Regions from separate parts of the Homo sapiens genome. Here region 2 is linked to region 1. Evidence: fine-mapped expression QTL. Tissue or cell type: testis. Region 1 holds a variant in brackets; the other region holds the start of a gene. All regions are shown on one strand. Distances are from middle to middle.

Evidence for each region. PIP is the estimated chance that this variant, and not a neighbour inherited with it, causes the effect.
Region 2: SYCE1 starts here. The variant in region 1 is fine-mapped to the expression of SYCE1 in testis (GTEx, PIP above 0.99).

Annotation. Positions count from the first base shown.
Region 1 is chr10:133,490,392-133,501,275 of GRCh38, forward strand. It overlaps LOC105378575 (a long non-coding RNA gene), which reads right to left. Exons shown (of 5, transcript XR_946512.3): 5 at 1,033-2,450. Among named protein-coding and RNA genes, the nearest start is that of CYP2E1, 32 kb to the right of the region's middle. RefSeq lists an enhancer at 57-106 and a silencer at 7,132-7,211. The variant T/C (reference allele first, on the strand shown) is at 4,982.
Region 2 is chr10:133,560,482-133,570,343 of GRCh38, forward strand. It overlaps SYCE1 (synaptonemal complex central element protein 1), which reads right to left and starts at 5,102. Exons shown (of 13, transcript NM_001143764.3): 1 at 4,976-5,102. The coding sequence starts at 5,048. It also overlaps the pseudogene SPRNP1.

The DNA.
Region 1 (10,884 bases):
TCTGGGATATTTCTGGTGATAATCTTTGTTTTTGGTTTTCTGTGGGAGAGAGTGAAACCAGTTTGCTTCTATTCTACATTGCCTTTTGAAACTAGAAAAAAAACCTCTCTTTTTTGAAGAGCTTGTGTGCTTAGGTCAGGCTTACCAGGAAAATCTCACTGTCTTAAGGTTAACTATGCCATGTAATGTAACATAATCACATGTATGTTAAAAGTGCTACTTGAATTAATAAGTGAGTTTATCAAGGTCATATAAAGTAAAACATACAAAAATAAATAGTGTTTTATGTACTAATAACAAGGATTGGAAATTGCAATCAAATAAACACCATTTGCAATTGCATCAAAGGCATGAAATAAGGATAAATTTAGCAAAATGTGTTTAAGACTTAAGTACTATGATCACAGCATTGTTGCTAAAACTCAAGGGAGATAAAAATAAGTGGAGATACACGCTATGATTGCAGAGTCAATATTGATAATATTTCAGTTCTTCCAAAATTGAACTAGTACCTAGAAATTGACATTTGATTTTAAATTTTATATGGTTATTCAAATGTCATATAGTATTTTACACAATTTTGAAGAACAAGAAAGAACATAATTAGGGAAATAAAATGACTTGATTTGAACATTTACTTTAAAGCTATTATTTAAAGACAGTCTGCTATTGATATAAGGATAAATATGTAAGGATAAATATTCAGAAATGAATAAACCTATACCTAAATGGTCAATTGATCTTTAACGAAGGATCAATACAGTTTAATCTAATCAGGGAAAAGATAGTCTTTTTTTTTTTTTTTAATGGAGTCTTGCTCTGTCACCTAGGCTGAAGTACAGTGGTGTGATCTCGGCTCACGGCAACCTCTGTCTCCCAGGTTCAAGCAATTCTTATGCCTCAGCCTCCAGAGTAGCTAGGATTACAGGTATGTATCACCATGCCCAGCTAATTTTTGTATTTTTAGTAGAGACAGGGTTTCACATGTTGGCCATGCTGGTCTTGAACTCCTGACCTCACGTGATCTGCCCACCTCGGCCTCCCAAAGTGCTGGGTTTACAGGCATGAGCCTCCATGCCCAGCCAAAAGATAATCTTTTCAAAAATGGTGTTGAAACAACTGGTTACTTATATATAGAAAAGAAATAACTGGTTATGTATATAGAAAAGAATGAACCATAATCCCTCCCTCAAACCATATATGAACATTAAACAGATCATATACCAAAACAGTAAAGCTAAACTAAAAGCTACTAGAAAAAATATGCAACTTTTGGGTATACAAAAATTTTGTAGGTAGTACACACACAAAAAGCACAAACCACCAAAGAAAATAATTTACAAAGTAGGCTTTATAAAAATTAGAAACCTCTGCTTTTTGAAAGACATAGATAAGAAAATGAAAAGGCAAACCACAAACCTGGAGAAAATATTCATAACATATATATTAGACAAAAGTTGTATTTCCATATTATATAAATAATTCTAAAAATTCAATAATAGGGAGACAATCAACCTAATTGTTTTTTAAAATGGTTAACTGATACAAACAGACCCTACATAAAAGAACTTATATGCATAGCCAATCAGCATGTGAAAAGATGTTCAACGTCATTAGTCATCAAGGAACTAGAAATTATAAGCAAAATGGGATACCATTAGAGACCCACTAACATTAAAGAAACTGACAATTTCAAGTGTTGGAAACAATGTAGAACAACTGCAACAACCGTAAATTTCTGGTGGAAATGTAAAATGGCAAAACTACTTTGGGGAAAAAATGGCTTTTTTTAGAAAGTTGAACGTATACTCCTAGGGATTTATATAAGAGCTTGAAAAACATATATCAACACAAAGGCCTATGTATTTATGCTTACCCCAACTTTATCCAAATTAATCTAAAGCTAAAATTAAGACAAATATCCATCAATAGATGATGGACAAAACAATTGTGATATATCTATATAATGGAATAGGATTTAGCAATCTATATAATGGAGTATAATTATATGAATGTGATACATCTATATAATGGAATAGGACTTAGCATGCATTCATCCATGCACCAACATGGATGAATCTGAAAAGTGTTTAGATTAGCAAAAGAAGATAGATACAAAATAAGTTCATATTGTATAATTCCATTTATATAAAACTGCACAATAAGAGAACTAATGTAAAGTGAGAGAATAGTGATTGCTTGGGGCTGAGATGAAGGATTTGTATCAAAAGGGCAGAGAAGAGCTTGTTAGGGTAATTGAAACGTTCTGTATCATGATGTGGAGGTGTTTACATGGGTGTATAAGCTTTTGAGAACTTATCAAATTATACACAAATATGTACATTTTATTATATGGAAATTATATCTCATTAAAGTTGATACAAAACAAGAATCCAGAACTCTATTTTGACATCTGGTGGACATCGCTCCAATCATGATTCCATGTCTCTCTGCATATACAGAAAGAAAGTTAAATTTGTATAGCTAGAGAACTGCTTAGATTAGGTTGAAAGATAAAATTTTATGAGAATATCATATATGTTTTAAAAGCAAGTTTTAGCTATATTTACTAATAAAAAGAAAGGAAACTGATGAAGCTAAAGAAGTTCAGGAAAATATTTCTCATAAAGATTAGTTTCCAAGAAACTACATTACTACATATCCTCACCCTGTGAGGGCACAAAACGCCCTGACAAACCTCATTTCAGTTTTTCCTTCTTGGAGATTAGTCTGTTATTCTTAAATCAGGGGCTTATCAGGGTCTCTGTGTTTCTTCCCAGGGAAAGAGTGGGCATCTAGAATGTGGGAGGTAATACATAATACCTCCAAATCTCCAGGGCGTATTTATTTCTTCAGACATCATGCTTACTGCCCCCCACTTTTTTTTTTTTTTAGAAAGAAAGAACAAAAAAGAGAAGGAGAGTAAATTCTTGTTTCCAAGTTAGACAAGAGAGTTATGATTAAATGCCACCTTGGGTCCACAAGTCTTCCATAAGAAAAACAATGAAAGGATTTCTGGATGATTCTATTATGACATCACAACTTGCAGCAGAGGCAGATGTAATGAGGCAATACTTGACATTGTTTTCAGGGCATTTGGTAGGTTCAATGGGAAACAAAACTCTTAAAACCCCTATCTGCTGGCTGGTGCTTAAAGTTTCTATCTCAATTGTCTTAGTCCATTTAGTGTTGCTATAAAGGAATAGCTGGGGCTGGGTAATTTGTAAAGAAAAGAGGTTTATTTGGCTCATGGTTCTGCAGGCTGTACAGGAATCATGGTGCCAGCATTTGCATCCGATGATGGCACAGGCTGTTTTCATGCATGGTGGAGGGTGAAGTGGAGCTGGCGTGCAGGGATCACATGGCAAGGCAAGAGGGGAAGTGAGTGAGTGAGTGAGCAAGACAAAGAGGGGAAGTGTATTAGTCCATTTTCATGCTGCTGATAAAGACATACCTGAGACTAGGCAATTTACAAAAGAAAGAGGTTTAACTGGACTTACAGTTCCACGTGGCTGGGGAAGGTCTCAGAATCATGGTGGAGGGCGAAAGGCACTTCTTACATGGCAGTGGCAAGAGAGAATGAGGAGGGAGCAAAAGCAGAAACCCGTGATAAACCCATCAGATCTTGTGAGACTTTTTCACTACCATGAGAATAGCACAGGAAAGACCAGCCCCTATGATTCAATTACCTCCCACTGGGTCCCTCCCACAAAACATGGGAATTCTGGGAGATATAATTCAAGTTGAGATTTGGGTGGGGGCACAGGCAAACCATATCATTCCACTCCTGGCCCCTCCCAAATCTCATGTTCTCACATTTCATAATCAATCATGCCTTCCCAACAGTCCCCCAAAGCCTTAACTCATTTCAGCATTAACTCAAAAGTCCACAGTCCAATGTCTCATCTGAGACAAGAAAACTCCCTTCTGCTTACAACCCTGTAAAATCAAAAGCAAGTTAGTTACTTCCTAGATACAATGTGGGTACAGGCATTGGGCAAAAACAGCCATTCCAAATGGGAGGAATTGGCCAAAACAAAGGGGCTACAGGCCCCATGCAAGTCCAAAATCCATCAGGGCAGTTAAATCTTAAAGTTCCAAAATTATTTCCTTTGACTCCACATCTCGCATCCAGGTCACACTGATGCAAGAAGTGGGTTCCCATGGTCTTGGGCAGCTCCGCCCCTTGGCTTTGCAGGATACAGCCTCCCTCCCGGCTGTTTTTATGGGCTGGTGTTGAGTGTCTGTGGCTTTTCCAGGCACACAGTGCAAGCTATCAGTGGATCTATCATCCTGGGGTCTGGAGGATGGTGGCCCTCTTCTCACAGCTCCAATAGGTGGTTACCCCATTAGGGATTCTGTTTGGGGGCTCTGACCCCACATTTCCCTTCTGCACTGCTGTGGCAGAGGTTCTCTATGAAGGCCTTGCGCTTGCAACAAACTTTTGCCTGGGCATCCAGGCATTTCCATACATCTTCTGAAATCTAGGCGGAGGTGCCCAAACCTCAATTCTTGACTTCTGTGTACCCACAGGCTCAACACCATGTGGAAGGTGCTAAGGCTTAGGGCTTGCACCCTCTGAAGCCATGGCTGGAGCTTTACCTTGGTCCCTTTTAGTCATGGCTAGGGGCAGCTGGGACACAGGACACCAAGTCCCTTGGCTGTACACAGCATGGGGACCCTGGGCCTAGCCCAGGAAGCCATTTTTATCTTGTACACCTCCAGGCCTGTGATGAGAAGGGCTGCTGTGAAGACCTCTGACATGCCCTGGAGAGGCATGTCTTTTCCCCATTGTCTTGTGAGTTAACATTCTGCTCCTCGTTACTTATGCAAATTTCTGCAGCTGGCTTAAATTTCTCCCCAGAAAATGGGATTTTCTTTTTCTATTGCATTGTCAGGCTGCAAATTTTCCAAACTTCTATGCTGTGCTTTCCTTATAAAATGGGATGCCTTTAACAGCACCTGAATCACCTCTTGAATG[T/C]TTGCTGCTTAGAAATTTCTTCCACCTGATACCCTAAATCATCTCTCTCTGGTTCAAAGTTCCACAGGTCTGTAGGGCAGGGGAAAAATGCTGCCAGTCCCTTTGTTAAACATAACAAGAGTCACCTTTGCTCCACTTCCCAACAAGTTCCTAATTTCCATTTGAGATCACCTCAGCCTGGACTTTATTGTCCATATTGCTATCAGCATTTTGGGCAAAGTCTCTAGGAAGTTCCAAACTTTCCCACATTTTCTTATCTTCTTCTGAGCCCTCCAAATTGTTCCAACCTCTGCCTGTTACCCAATTCCAAAGTCAATTCCACATTTTTGGGTATCTTTTCAGCAACACAACAGCCCACTCCTGGTACCAAAATCTGTATTAGTCAGGGTTCTCTAGAGGGACAGAACTAATAGGATAAATATTATATATGTATATATATATGTATATATGTAAATGGGAGTTTATTAAATATTAACTAACATGATCACGAGGTCCCCACAATAGGCTGTCTGCAAGCTGAGGACCAAGGAGAGCCAGTCCAAGTCCCAAAACTGAAGAACTTGGAGTCTGATGTTTGAGGGCAGGAAGCATCCAGCATGGGAGAAAAATGTAGGCTGGAAGGCTAAGCCAGTCTTGCCTTTTCATGTTTTTCTGCCTGCTTTATATTTGCTGGAAGCTCATTAGATGGTGTCCACCTGATTAAGGGTGGGTCTGCCTTCCCCAGCCCACTGACTCAAATCTCCTTTGGCAACACCCACACAGACTCACCTAGGGTTAATACTTTTTACAGTCCTTATTTCTGCAGCTGGTCATGTGGTCGTAGCTGGTATTGATGACTACCTTCTTCTATCACCCACTGTGTATTCCCTTTGCCTTCTGCAAGCACCTCATCAGATCAAGGTTTTTTTCCTGGTGGAGTGACTTAAACCTTCATTCCTGAAGGGTCTGGACCATTTGTAGTCCTCCCTGGATTGGGCTGTTGTAGTTTCTCATTGACCTTAATCACAGGGCATGGTAATACTAAGTGACATCCTAATGGATCTCCTGTATTCCATGCATGCTCCTCCTTACCTCTGTTATGGAGTAGTAGACTGATTTCATCTTGATAGTCTGGGTCAATCAACCTAGCCAACACTGTAACTCCCTTCTTAGCCTGTTTACTTAAAGGTAGGAGGAGCCCGAAGTGTCCAGGTGACAATCTTAACTTTCAGTTTAATGGAATTGTTGTTGTGTCTCCTGGTGGCAGTGTTACTCCCTCTGGAACTAAGATCTCTAGGCTAGCAGAACGTAATGTTGCAGGAACAGGAAGCAAAAATTTTGCTACTGGATCATTAGGGGTGATGGTGAGTGGTGCCACTTCCACTTCCACCCCTTGATTCCTGGACCCGTGAATCCTGGCTATGGGAGAAACAGTACCATATATCAGATGCTGATCCAGTGCATACACAGCCTTCTAGAGTACTTTGCCCCAGCCCTGCAAAGTATTGTCATCTAATTGACATGGTAATTGTAGGGTCCAGCCCCACAGGGTTGGTGCATTTTCTCCTTCTGTGTGGAGACGAGAGAGCGTAGAAATAAAAACACAAGACAAAGAGATAAAAGAAAAGACAGCTGGGCCCGGGGGACCACTACCACCAAGATGCGGAGACTGGTAGTGGCCCCGAATGCCAGGCTGCACTGATATTTATTGGATACAAGACAAAGGGGCAGGATAAGGAGTGTGGGCCATCTCCAATGATAGGGAAGGCCACATGGATCACATGTCCCCTGGACAGGGGGCCCTTTCCTGCCTGGCAGCCGAGGCAGAGAGAGAGAGGAGAAAGAGAAACAGCTTACACCATTATTTCTGCTTATCAGAGACTTTTAGTACTTTCACTAATTTGCTACTGCTAACTAAACGGCAGAACCAGGTGTACAAGATGGAACATGAAGGCAGACTAGGAGTGTGACCACTGAAGCACAGCATCACAGGGAGACGGTTAGGCCTCCGAATAACTGTGGGTGGGCCTGACTAATGTCAGGCCTTCCACAAGAGGTGGAGGAGTAGAGTCTTCTCTAAACTCCCCTGGGGAAAGGGAGACTCTCTTTCCCGGTCTGCTAAGTAGCGGGTGTTTTTCCTTGACACTAACGCTACTGCTAGACCACGGTCTGCTTGGCAATGGGCATCTTCCCAGATGCTGGCGTTACCGCTAGACCAAGGAGCCCTCTGGTGGCCCTGTCTGGGCATAACAGAAGGCTCACACTCTTGTCTTCTGGTCACTTCTCACTATGTCCCTTCAGCTCCTATCTCTGTATGGCCTGGTTTTTCCTAGTTTATGATTATAGAGTGAGGATTATTATAATATTGGAATAAAGAGTAATTGCTACTAATGATTAATGATATTCATATATAATCATATCTAAGATCTATCTCTGGTATAACTATTCTTATTTTATATTTTATTATACTGGAACAGCTCGTGTCCTCGGTCTCTTGCCTTGGCACCTGGGTGGCTTGCCACCCACAGCAATTGTGACTTTGAAAGGCCATTCCACCGTTCTATCAATCCAGCTGCTTCAGGATGATGGGCAACGTGGTAAGACCAGTGAATTCCACGAACATGAGCCCACTGCTGCACTTCTATGGCCGTAAAGTGAGTACCTTGGTCAGAGGCAATACTGTGTGGAACACCATGATGGTGGATAAGGCATTCCATGAGTCCACAGATGGTAGTCTTGGTAGAAGTATCGTGTGCAGGATAGGCAAACCGATATCCAGAATAAGTATCTATTCCAGTGAGGACAAATCTCTGCCCTTTCCATGATGGAAGAGGTTCAATATAATCAACCTGCCACCAGGTAGCTGGCTGACCACCCTGAGAAATGGTGCCATATCGAGGAATCAGTGTTGGTCTCTGCTGCTGGCAAATTGGGCACTCAGCAGTGGCCATAGCCAGATCAGCCTTGGTGAGTGGAAGCTCATATTGCTGAGCCCATTCATAACCTCCATCCCTGCCACCATGGCCACTTTGTTCACGGGTCCATTGGGCAATGACAGAGGTGCTTGGGAAAGAGGCTGAATGGTGTCCACAGAAGTGGTCATCCTATCCACTTGATTATTAAAATCCTCCTCTGCTGAGGTCACCCATTGGTGAGCACTCACATGGGATACAAATATCTTCACAGTTTTTGACCACTCAGAGAGGTCCATCCACATACCTCTTCCCCACATTTCTTTGTCACAATTTCCGATCATTCTTCTTTCAAGTCCCTGACCATCCAACCAAACCATTAACTACAGCCCATGAATCAGTATATAATCACACATCTGGCCATTTCTCCTTCCATGCAAAGTGCACAACCAGGTTCACTGCTCTTAGTTCTGCCCACTGGGAAGATTTTCCTTCCCTACTGTCCTTCAGGGATGTCCTAGAAAGGGGCTGTAGTGCTGCAGCTCTCCACTTTTGGGTGGTGCCTGCATATCATGCGGAACCATCCACGAACCAGGCCCAACTAATTATAGGGAACTTCCCATGAGGCCGTTGGGGCAGGCTCGGGGAGAGAAGGAAGGGTGGCAGGAGTGGAGACCATGGGCATTTGAACCACTTCCTCATGTAACTTACTTGTGCCTTCAGGACCTGCTGGAACCTGATCACATATATACCACTTCCATCCTGTGGTCATTTCCCTAGTGCCACTTCCATTTGATGACGGAATGCTGCTGTGCACAACCCACTTAATGGCTAGATGGGTCAGAAAGCACCCAGTTTATGATAGGCAGTTCAGGTCGCGTGGTGACTTGGTGACCTACAGTCAAACGTTCAGTTTCCACCAAAGCCCAGTAACAGGCTAAGAGCTGTCTCTCAAAAGGAGAGTAGTTATCTGCAGAAGATGGCAGGGCCTCGCTCCAAAATCCTAGAGGCCTCCACTGTGATTCACCTATGGGAGCCTGCCAAAGGCTCCAAACAGCATGCCTATCTGCCACTGACACCTCAAGCACCATTGGATATGCTGGGCCATATGGCCCAAGTGGCAGAGCAGCTTGCACAGCAGCCTGGACCTGCTGCAGAGCCTTCTCTTGTTCTGGACTCCACTCAAAACTGACAGCTTTTCAGGTCACTCAATAAATGGGCTGGAGTAACACACCCAAATGAGGAATGTGTTGCCTCCAAAATCCAAATAGGCCCACTAGGCATTGTGCCTCTTTCTTGGTTGTAGGAGGGGCCAAATGCAGCAACTTATCCTTCACCTTAGGAGGAATATCTCTACAGGCCCCATACCACTGGACCCTTAGAAATTTTACTGAGGTAGAAGGTCCCTGAATTTTAGGCAGATACACTTCCCATCCTCTGGCATGCAAATGTTTCACCAATAAGTCCAGTGTTTGCTACTTCTTGCTCACTGGATCCAATCTGCATAATGTCATCAATGTAATGGACCAGTGTGATATCTTTTGGAGGCAAAAAGCGATCAAGTTCTCTCTGAATAAGATTATGACACAAAGCCAGATAATTCATATACCCCTGAGGTAGGACAGTAAAGGTATATTGCTGGCCTTGACAGCTGAAGGCAAATTGTTTCTGGTGGGCCTTATGGACAGGAATGGAGAAAAAGGCATTTGCCAAGTCAATGGTTGCACACAAAGTACCAGGAGATGTGTTAATTTGCTCAAATAATGAAACCACATCTGGTACAGCAGCTGCAATTGGAATCATCACTTGGTTAAGCTTATGGTAATCCACTGTCATTCTCCAAGATCCATCTGTCTTCTGCACAGGCCAAATGGGAGAGTTGAATGGGAATGTGGTGGGAATCACCACCCCTGAGTCTTTCAAGTCCTTGGTGGTGGCACTAATCTCTGCAATCCCTCCAGGGACACAATATTGTTTTTGATTTACTATTTTTCTAGGTAGAGGCAGCTCTAATGGCTTTCATTTGGCCTTTCTCACCACAGTAGCCGTCACCCTACCAGTCAGGGAGCCAATGTGAAGGTTCTGCCAGCTGCTAAGTATGTCTATGCCAATTATGCATTCTCGCACTAGGGAAATGACCACAGGATGAGTCCAGAGACCCACTGGACCCACTGTAAGTCAGACCTGAGCTAAAACTTCATTAATTACCTGACTCCCATAAGCCCCTACTTTAACTGGAGGACCACAATGACGTTTTGGGTCCCCTGGAATCCATGTCAGCTCAGAGCCAGTGTCCAGTAGTCCCTGAAATGTCTGATCATTTCCCTTTCCCCAGCGCACAGTTATCCTGGTAAAAGGCCAGAGGTCTCCTTGGGGAAGGATGGGAGAAAGATTCACTGCATAAATTGCTGGTAATGTAGTAGGGTCCTTCCTAATGGGAACTTGGCTTCCCCTTCATTCAAGTGGTTCTGGATCTGTAAACTGGCTCAAGTCTGGAAATTGATTAAGAGGCCATGATTCTACATTTTTATAATTCAAATTAGTCTTTTATCCATTCGACCTAGAAGTTTTCTGCTTGTATAAATTAAGTAGGAATGCAGTAGGCTTTCTATCAATTTCACTTCTAGGAACACCATGATTAATTAGCCAATGCCAGAGCTCTACACGAGTCAGACTATTCTGATTGCCGCTTTGCCTCTGCTGTCCATTATGATAGCTATGCCCACCTTGCTTTTGATAGCTGAGTGCCACCACTTGGCCCCTGCCACCTCGGGATCCAATTGTTACCATTATATTTAAGTTTTGTAGTTGAGTGACTGTGGCTCCCACCATTAGATCTGACATACAGAGAAAAGCAATTGCAAGGCTCTTCAAAGATTCAGGTGCTGCCCTCACAAATCTATTTTGCAAGGCGTTGGTCAAGGGTGTATCTTCTGGACCCTCCCAGCTGGGATGAGTAGGTCTAAAGTGACTAATCCACTCCACCATCCCAATCTCCCTAAGCCTTTGGAT
Region 2 (9,862 bases), 70 kb after region 1:
ATCACTGTAACTGGCAGATGACATAATCTAGGAAGTTCTTAGAGAGTTTTCTACAAAACCATAAGGATTAGTAACAAAATGCATTAAGATGTTAGGTTAAAAACATATATAAATACAAACAAGCTTTCCTACATACAACCAATACTAACCCTGAAATTTCCCCATAAAATATTTCATGTTAATTTTTTATAATCACTATTGGAACCTATTTTTAACACTAAAATTAGTAGATCTAAGAAATTACTATTTATGGCATTAACATTGTGAAAGGAAAATAAATCTTTTTATAAATAAATCTTTGAAAATAAATCAATTCAAAGTCATCCCTCTGCTCACTGAGATAAATGCATATCTGATTTTGTAAAATAAATATCTGAAAATAATTCAGTCATCCTTCTTCTTACTCAGATAAATGCATATCTGATTGCCTCCTTTGGAAAGGCTAATCGGAAACTCAAAAGAATACAACCATTTGTCTTTTATCTACTTATGACCTTGAAGCAAACCCCCCTGCTTCAAGTTGTCTCATCATTGCTTTGAGTTGTCCCACCTTTCCAGATCGAACCAATGTTCATCTTACATATGTTGATTTGTGTCTCATGTCTCCCTAAAAAGCATAAAACCAACCTGTGCTCTGACCACCCTGCCACCCTGGGCACAGGTCATCAGGACCTCCTGAGGCCGTGTCACAGGCATGCATCCCTAACTTTGGTAAAATAAACTTCCTAAATTGACTGAGACCTGTCTCAGATTTTTGGGTTTCACATTTTGGCAACCACAAAGGGATTCTGAGTAGAGGTGCCCCTGACCTTTGACAAATATCCTATCAGTGCTTGCTAGCAGCTTGAGCTATCTTTATGGTTCAAACTAATATGACAAGTTGCTGAGTTCTGGAAGTCCCCCATCCAGGGAATCCCTCATTTCCCAAAATTCGCTCCAGATCCAAAGTTTATTTTTCTAAACAACTCTACTCTTTTTTTGGAGTTTTTCTTGCTTCCAACAAGGAAGGCAAGTTTTCCTGCTTCCATGAAAGTTCCTTTCTGGAGTTTGAACTCGCTCCCAACAGGGAAGACAAGTTTGAGGGTTTTTTTCCTGCTTCTAAGATGATAGAGAGCAGTCTTCAGCCTAAGACCCATCCCTAGGTAAGTAACTGAATTGGGGTTTGTCTTGGCTAAAGGTAAAATTAACAACCAGCTGGTCTTAATTTTTCCTTATCATTAGAGTGTCCAGTAACCATACAAGTTGTGTGATCATTTGTTTGTTTTGCTTAACTGGTATTTTTTTTTGTTGTTGTTTCTTTCTGTTTTTGTTGTTTTGGTCCTTTTCCTATTGGGTTTGGCCAATTCTGACTTGATCAAATCCAAAGGAAAGTTCCAAATTATGTGGAACAAGGCCTCTGAAGTGGCTAAATTCCCACCAGAAAAGGGGTGGTGGGGGAAGAAAAAACAGCCAGCAAAAGGAAAAAAGGGGGGGAAGATTTTTGATTTTGACTACTTAAGGGGATTTATTTACATAACAAGGCCACCTTTTTGCTAGCCAGGCCAAACTGAAAGAGAAAGGATTGTCACCCCAACTGCAGTTCCATAGCTAAGGTTCTGTCTTCTTTTTTCCATGACAGCCTGGGTTTGGTTCCTAAATCAAGACCTTTCTGGTTTGATACTTGGTACTTCTGAAATAGCAGATATTTGTCCTAGCTGAAATATGTTGATGAGATCTTAAAAATTTTTTAAAAAGAAACTCAAATGGTTAAAAGTCATCTTAATTAAAAGCTAACATCCAATGTGTGTGTGTGTGTGTGTGTGTGTGTGTGTGTGTGTGTGTGTGTGTGTGTGTGTATTTAAAAGGGCTTCATGATTTTTCTTTTTTCTCTCTCCTAGGACCTTGTGTTTTTTGGGCAAAAGTTTTTTTTCTTTTCAGTTGACTGAATGCTATTTTCTTCATATAGTTCTGCTGTCTCTCCTTTCCCTTGAACGCTCTGCTGCATGAGGGACCTAAAATAGTTTATAATAGCCTGAGGTTCCTTAAAGAAAATGGAGAAGGCACCAGACTCCCTTTTGTGGAGAAAATTGTTTTTCCTTGTGTATCCCCAAGAGTGTAAACACACAAGTTCATGTCAGCTCCTAAACTGTTTGCTTTTGTATTGTGTTACCTGATTTTTTTGTTTATTAATTATTGCAACAGAAGCTACTCCTGCATTTTTAAGGAAGAGTATATTTTAGACACTTAGAAATATTTTTTTAATGTTTTTTAAGTACACTGTAAAAGCATCCATGTGGTCGAGCCTCATAATAATTCTCCCTTTTTGCAGACCCAGGATTCAGTGTGGCCTCTTCCCAGAGCTCAGAGATCCAGTTAAAAGATAGGTAGTCACTATCTAAATAAAATTGGTCTCCTGTGATCCAACCACCTCCCACCAGGCCCCAACTCCAACATTGGGGATTACAATTCAACATATTTGGGTGAGGACACAGATCCAAACCATATCACAGGCCAAGGCCAAGGCCGAGGCACGGTTGAGAAGGCTCAGAGGCACCTGACCAAAGTTTGTAACAGTTTTGATTGACAATACCAAATTACCTTACACTGATGTATACAAGATGCCCAGTTTTTCATTTTTACCAATCACCTATGTTTCCAAACGTGTTTATCTTTGTCAACCAGATATGCAAAATTAAGGTGTCTCCTTACAAACTTTCTGATAGTAAATATCAAAAGTTTGGGTGCATCTTATTTTCTAAGACTATGTCCTAAGTAATTCTGGATATGGCTAATGGGCAAGGTGTTCATCACTGTATTGTTTATAATAGTGAAAAACTCGAAGAAGCCTAAATATGCCTTAGGGGATTTGTTAAATAAATTATAGCACATACACAGGATGAAATCATTTACAGCCATTAAAAATCATGCATACATGCATAAGGCCAGGCTCAGTGGTTCACATCCATAATCCCAGCACTTTTGGGAGACTGAGGCAGGAGGACTGCTCAAGCATAGGAGTTCAAGAGCAGCCTGAGCAATGCAGCAAGACCCTCTCTCTACAAATAAAAAATTTAAAAAAATTATCTGGGCATGGTGACATGTACCTGTGATTCCAGCTACTCAAGAGGCTGAGGTGGGAGAATCTCTTGAGGCCAGGAGGTCAAGGCTGCAGTGAGCAGTGATTGTACCACTGCACTCCAGCCTGGGCAACAAAGCACAATCTCGTCTCAAAAAAAAAAAAAAATCAAGCATAAAATTTTGTGAAATGCTTATTTTTGAGTTTATGGAGTCCCCTCATTTTGGTCCCACCTGAAATCTTACACAAATTACTGCTCATAAATTTTTGCATTAAGTTTTAAATTATTCAAGTAATTGGCATGTGTGAAAAAGTATGAAGAAAAAATTGAAACACCAACATTCCCTTTCCCCAGTCATTCCCCTTTCTAGTAATAACTGCAGCCAGTTAGGTGAAGACTAATAGACTTTTTACTAAAATGTATCTAGTGTCACTGACCCTAGATAACATCCCTGCTTCCTTTTTAAAACAGATAGACTAAAACTGGAATCTTGTCCTTTAAATTTCTTCTGTAGCTGGTCACTATAGAATGTTTGTGCCCCCATCCATAGTTCGTATGTTGAAATCCTAACCCCCTAGTGTGACTGCATTAGGAGGTGGGGCCTTTGGGAGGTGATTAGGTCATGAGAGTAGGGCCCTCAGCAATGGGATTAGTGCCCTTATAAGACCAGAGAGGTCTGCAGCAACTTCCCCAACATGAGGACACAATGAGAAGACAGAAGTCTATAGCCAGGAAGCAGGCCCCCACCAGACGCTGAATTGCACCTTGATCTTGAACTTCTAGCCTCGAAAACTGTGAGAAATAAGGCATTTCTGTTGTAGCAGTTTGAACTAAGGCACAAGCGACATTGGTTAAAACTTACCTAAATATACTAGGTTATGTGAGGAACATGGAGCCATGATACTGAAAGGCTAGCACACCGGCGGGCCAGCAGGTGCTTAATGAAAGGGATACGTTTGCGTCTGTCCTGTTTACTTGCTTTGTCCTTCGCTGGGGCTTTCACTGTGCCACATCTCACTGTAGGGATGCTTTCTGTGCTAAGCTTGTTTCAGTATTCAAACCTTCATTTTGTAAGAACATGACAGAGCACCTGCCATGGCATTCACGCAGGTAGGGCTGGAGGCAGCCACCGACGTTTGTTAATTGCAGAGTTTTAACTCAAGGGGGACAGATGATCTCAGGACAGAATGACAAGCTGAGTGACAGCAGGAGGGACGTCACCGTACAATTCTCTCCACTTTTCTGTAAGTTTGAAAATCCTCACAGAACACCCAGAGGCACACAGTGTCCTGAAGTGGAAACGGCCAGGACAGTGTCCTTTCTCTTTGTTGGGCTGCAATTTCTGGACTTCTGTACAACTCTGACCAGCTGCCTGTCCCCTCCCTTCCCAGGGTGAGGTAGGAGCCACTATGGCAGGTCGGGGTCAGGGAGAAACAAACGGGGGATCTGCGTGGAGTCGGCCTCCCCCGGCTCCCCGGGGCGTCGGGATGCTGGGTGGGGGGCCCCACTGTCAAGAACCAGTTTAGTGCGACTGGGAAATCTGGACACTTGCTGGTTCTAGGGAGAGGAAGGTGGAATTAGGAATTCCCTTGGGATTGGGAGCGTCAGGAAAATATCCTTTTTGTTTTAAGAGGTGTGTATGTAAAGTCTGTGGGACAACGGGAAGGGATGTCTTTTGACTAATTACCTAAACCAAAATTGGAGCAACTATGATAACAGTTCAATGCTTTAAGACAAAGTGGGGGGTGTGCGGGCAAGCACTCCCTCATCTTGGCCGAAATTTTTCTGAAGAAACCCGCTAAGTCTCAATCAGCAGCATCAGGACTGACAGGAAGAAGCAGCCGCCACCCGCGCCCCAACCCTGCCCCGCCTCGGCGAGGTCAGACCCTCACGCACAGTTCCCTGCCTCCCACCACTACCTCCGGCCTTCTCAGCCCTGTCCACGGCTCCTGCGGTGGGCTCGGCCTTCGATGTCAGGGACCTCCCCGCCATTTCCTCTCAGCTCGCCAGCGAGGGTGCCTCGGGAGGGAGCCTCCAGTGGTGATTGGAGCAACCGCCGCTGGGGGCAGGACTCCAGGCAGCGCGCCTGCGCAATGCACTCCTGCGCGCGCCTGGAGATGTGAGGTAATTCTCCGGCAGGCCTGCGTGGCACTAGTGCGCATGCGTAAAGGCGCGAGGGCTACAAACGCGGCGGGAAGCCCGCCAGGGCCACGTGCGGCCGTCCAGGCTTGCGATTGGCCCGCTGCCGGGTGCCCCCGCGCATGTGCGCTGGCTTCCGAGGGGACCGGCCCTGGTTCTGGAGGCCCTCCCCACCAACGAGCAGTACGCATGTGTAGCGCCGAAGCTTCCTGTGAAGTGTGCGTGTCTGACGGATGACGACTCCACAAGGCGCTGTGGCCCTGGCAGCCTCATGAGGTTGCGGCTCTGCGGGACCACACCGCCGCGGGAGTGCACGGGCCCCAGCGAGTGAAATCTGCGGCAGCCCCCGCTGGGCCCGCTGTTCCTGCGCGCGCAGAGGAGCGTAGCCTGCCCCTAGGCCGCGTTCCCGTGAGCTCCATGCCCACAGTGGCCGAGGCCGGCCACAAGCCCACGGTCCCTTCTGCACGGTCCCTGCCGCGCTGGGGCCACCGTGGAGGCCCGGAGGGCCCTGGGAGGAGGGAGGAGGAGCAGAGGCTTTCGGGAGAACCCAGCCCTTCACCGGCCAGGGGAGGCCGCGATGCATCGCGACTGGTTGTGAAGAGCCAGGGGAAGAACTTTACCGTGCAGGTGAGTGGGAGACATCAGAACACCTGCCTGTCCTAAATACGAAGCCTCGAATCCTAACCTATAAAAGGTTACCTTAGGGTTTAGGGTTAGGGCTACAGATTAGAGCTAGGGATTAAGGTTAGAGTTGGGGTTGGGGTTAGGGTTTAGGGGTTAGAAGTTAGTTTTGGGGTTAGGAGTGGGGTTAGAATTAGGGTTTGGGGTTAGTGTTAGGGGTAGGGGAAGGATTGGGGTAGGGTTAGGGTTGGGCTAGGGTCGGGGTAGGGGTAGGGTTTTACGGTTAGGGTCAGGGTTTTAGTGTTGGGGTTAGGGTATTGGGGTTAGGGTTTGGGGGCTAGGGGATTAGGGTCAGGGGTGGGGGTTAGGGTTTGGGATTTGGCTAAGGTTTGTAAGGGTTAGGGTTTTAGGGTAGGGGATAGGGGTTAGGGTTACGTGTTGGGGTTGGGATTAGGGTTAGGGGTTACAGTTTAGGGTAAGGGGTTAGAGTTAAGGGTTAGGGTTAGCATTAGGAGTTACAGTTGGGTTAAGGGTTAGGGGTTAGGCTTAGTGTTGTTAGGGTTAGGGTTAGGGTTAGCATTAGGAGTTACAGTTGGGTTAAGGGTTGCAGGTTAGGCTTAGTGTTGTTAGGGTTAGCTTCAGGGTTCGGTGTCAGGGTTTGGGGTGGGGTAGTGGTAGGTTTAGGGGTAGCGTTGTGTGTTAGGATTTGTGGTTACGGTTCGGGCTAGGGTTTTAGGGGTAGGCATAGGTTCGAGTTTGGGTTTGGGTGTTAGGTTTATGGCTAGCATTAGGGTAGGGGTTAGGTGTAGGAGTAGGGGTTGAGGTTATGAGTTGAGGTTAGGGTTAGGGGTCAGGGGTCCGGTCAAGGGTTGGTGTTGGATTTAGGGATTAGGGCTAGAATTAGGGGTTAGGGTTAGGGGTTTGTGTCGGGGTTGGGTTGGAGGCTTGGGTTCAGGGTCAAGTTTAGGGTTGGGGCTAGGGCTTAGGGTTATGGGTTAGTGTTAGCAGTTAGGGTTAAGGTTTAGGCTTAGGGTTTAGTGCTTGAGGTGGGGGTTAGGTGTTAGGGGTTAGGGTTAAGGGTTAGTGTTTTGCGTTAGTGGTTAGGGTTAAGGGTTATGGTTAAGGGTCAGCGTTAGGGTCAGGGGTTAGGGGTAGGGGTTGTGCTTAGTTTTAGGGTTAGGGTTCCTGGACGGATGGTTTTCCTGCTTGGGAATGTTCCTGGGCTGTGAGATCCACTCTTCTGGGCAGGTGGTTAGCACCTAACGTTTTCCCCTTACTTCCCCCCAAATTCTTAAGTCCTTTGGTCCATTTCATTACTTCTTTTGGGGAGGGCCTGATTCCTCAGGGCCTCAGTGGCAGAACCAGCCTGAGGTCACCTCCCTGTCCATGGGTTACCACGGCCCCTGGGCAGGCATGGGGAGCTGGGGTGGCTTGGGTTCCTGGCCTTGGCACCTCCCTTTGGGCGGCTCTGGAGTGTGGCTGGGCTGTTGGTACAGGAGCCACAGGCCACTGCCTTTTTGGCTGAGGGGACCCTAACATCCTGGAGCAGGTGGGGCAGGGCCCATGGTCTCCTCTAGGTGGGAGGTGGGAGGCTGAGGCGGCGTGGGCAGGCAGGTGGATGGCGAGGCAGCATGGGCAGGACGGTGGATGGCGGGTCCACAGGGGCAGCCAGCAGCTCCTGCACCCACTGGGGCTCCAAGACTGTGGGCAAGGGAGGAAGGGGGAGCCCAGGCCGGAGGATCCTGGGGGACGGTGCGGCCCGGGGGCCAGATGTGGTCACCGAGCCCAGCCAGGCCTAGGGCCGCAGCAGCCCCAGGGCACTGAGGGCGCCACCCAGCCCGACACAGAGGCACAGGCCGCCCGTGGGTCCAGCGCCCGAAGTCCACGTACAGTAGCTGTAGATGCCGAGCCGGTCCTGTTGCCTCCGGGAACCCAGTCCTCCTCGTCCTCCAGGCCGCGTTCCCCGGGTCCCGCGGCCCTTCTCCAGCCTGAGCCCGCCGCCCCGGCCGCAGCCACGCGCAGGGAGGAGCCCGGGGCACCATAGCACAGCGCCGGCCTCACACACACCCTCGAGGCCCCTCTCGAGCCCCCGCGGAGCCCTCCGCGGCCGCACGCAGAGGAAGGCTGCCTCCTGTAGCAGAGCCCAGCCATTCGCGGGTGCCCAGTTCATCTTCATGGGGCTAAACCTGCGGGAAGAGAGGGAAAGGGCCCTTAGTTTCCATGGAGATCGGGTGCCCAGAGGCGGAGGGCTCAAGGCTGGAGAGCAGAGGGACCCCCATCTTTTGTGGGATCAGGGTGCCCCCAGCATCTTGGAGGCCCACTGAGGCCTGGGGGGGCGCGGTTTAACCTCTAGCATCAGGGACTTAGGCCTGGGGGAGGCGCTGGGAAGTGGCAGGTGGGGCAGGAGGGGCAGGAGGGTTCTGCACCTGAAGGTTGTGCACCTGGATTGGGGGTGTAGAAGCGGGGCAGGAGCGTTCAGGCCTCTGGGGGCGTCCAGGCCCGGGCGGGGGAGCAAGCCTGGGGGAGGGAGCTCTGCACGCGTTGCTGGGATGTGGGGGGCGGGGGGAGGCGGCATGGGGGGAGGGGCGTTGTGTTTGGAGGACGCGGTAGCCGGGACCAAGAGCTGGCTCAGATCAGGGTCTGGAACGGGGACGGGCCGTGCCTGGGCCTGGTCCCCACCTTTGGGGCCAAAGCCTGGGTGCGGGCCTTGCGGATGCTGCGGAGGACAAGCGGCTGCTGACACCGTGCGGACTCCGCCCCAGCAGACCCGTGCCCCAGGGACAGTCCCTCCCGCGCGCGCCCAGCGCTCAATGCCGTCCCCGGCCGCCTAGTTCAGCAGCTGGCTGGGGGCGGGACGGGGTCGAGTTGCGGGGCCGCGTCCAGACACGGCTGTGCGGGCGACAGCTGCATCCCCTCCCCGCGCCGCCCCTCGCTCCCGGCCCCGTACCCGCCCCAGCCTCCCGGCCTTACCCGCCACGGGCCTCGGTTGGAACCGCGCGCTGGAGTATCCGTCCCTGAGGCCGCGGCCGAGCGGGAAGGAGCGGGCGGGCGGCGGCGCGGACCCTCAGCCGGAGCGCGGAGCCGCGGCGCCTGGGTTTTGCGCGAGGCCTCCGCCCTGGGATTGGGGCGGGCAGTCGCGGAGGCGCATCCCTGGTGAGCCGGTGGGAGGGGAAAAGGATGTCGCGTCCCCCATCCTTGCGGCCTCCCGTCCTCCGTCACCAGCCCCCTCCGTCTCCTGCATCACAAGGCCCCGTCCCCGCGGTCCCCCGCGACCCCCGCACCCGGCTCCGCTCCACCCGCCGTGCTTCCTGCCCCTCCACACCCTCGTCCCCACCCGGGCCCATCCCCCTGTGAGCCCTGGTGCCCTGGGATGAGGGCCGAGGTCCTGAGCGGAGAGGGTGCTTGTACCAGCCCCATGGTGGCTCGAGCCCACCCCGCGGCCCCTCCCGTGGCAGGTGCGGTTTCTCCACCGGTTGTCAGCTGCGGGGCCGGGCGGAGACCTCCTCAACCTCCGGCCTTGTTTCAGGGAGGATGGGGTCGACCCTTGCGATCCCCAGAGGCCCCCCATGGCTCCTTCTGGGCTGGCTGTCTTCCTCCTGTGGGTTCTGATGCCACCTGGGCCGACGGCGTCTTCTCAGCCCAGGGCGGCCGCGCCTCCGGTGAGTTTCAGCTGAGGGCGCGCGGCCAGCTCCGAGCCTGGCTCCGGGTGCAGCACCGGCCTGGGACCTCTGCTGTCCCGTGTAGGGGTGCCCTGCAAATATGTGATGAATAAGTGAAGAAATACGTTTTATCTTCTAACTTGCCGGATGTTAGAAGGAAACCAAGCTTATGCTTCTCATTTATAGCTACCGTTAAGGATTGGACAGAAGCTTAGCTTTTTGGGTGAGACGGACAACAGTGTTTTTAGAACCTTTGGCAAGGAAGAGCTGGAAAGAACATGTATTTGAAAGTGACTGACAGGTCTTCTGGCCCTAGGGGGCCACCTGAGCAGGTGCACCCAGCTTCCCTCCAAGACAGAAAATAAATTAACAAGGAGAGCAGGAAGG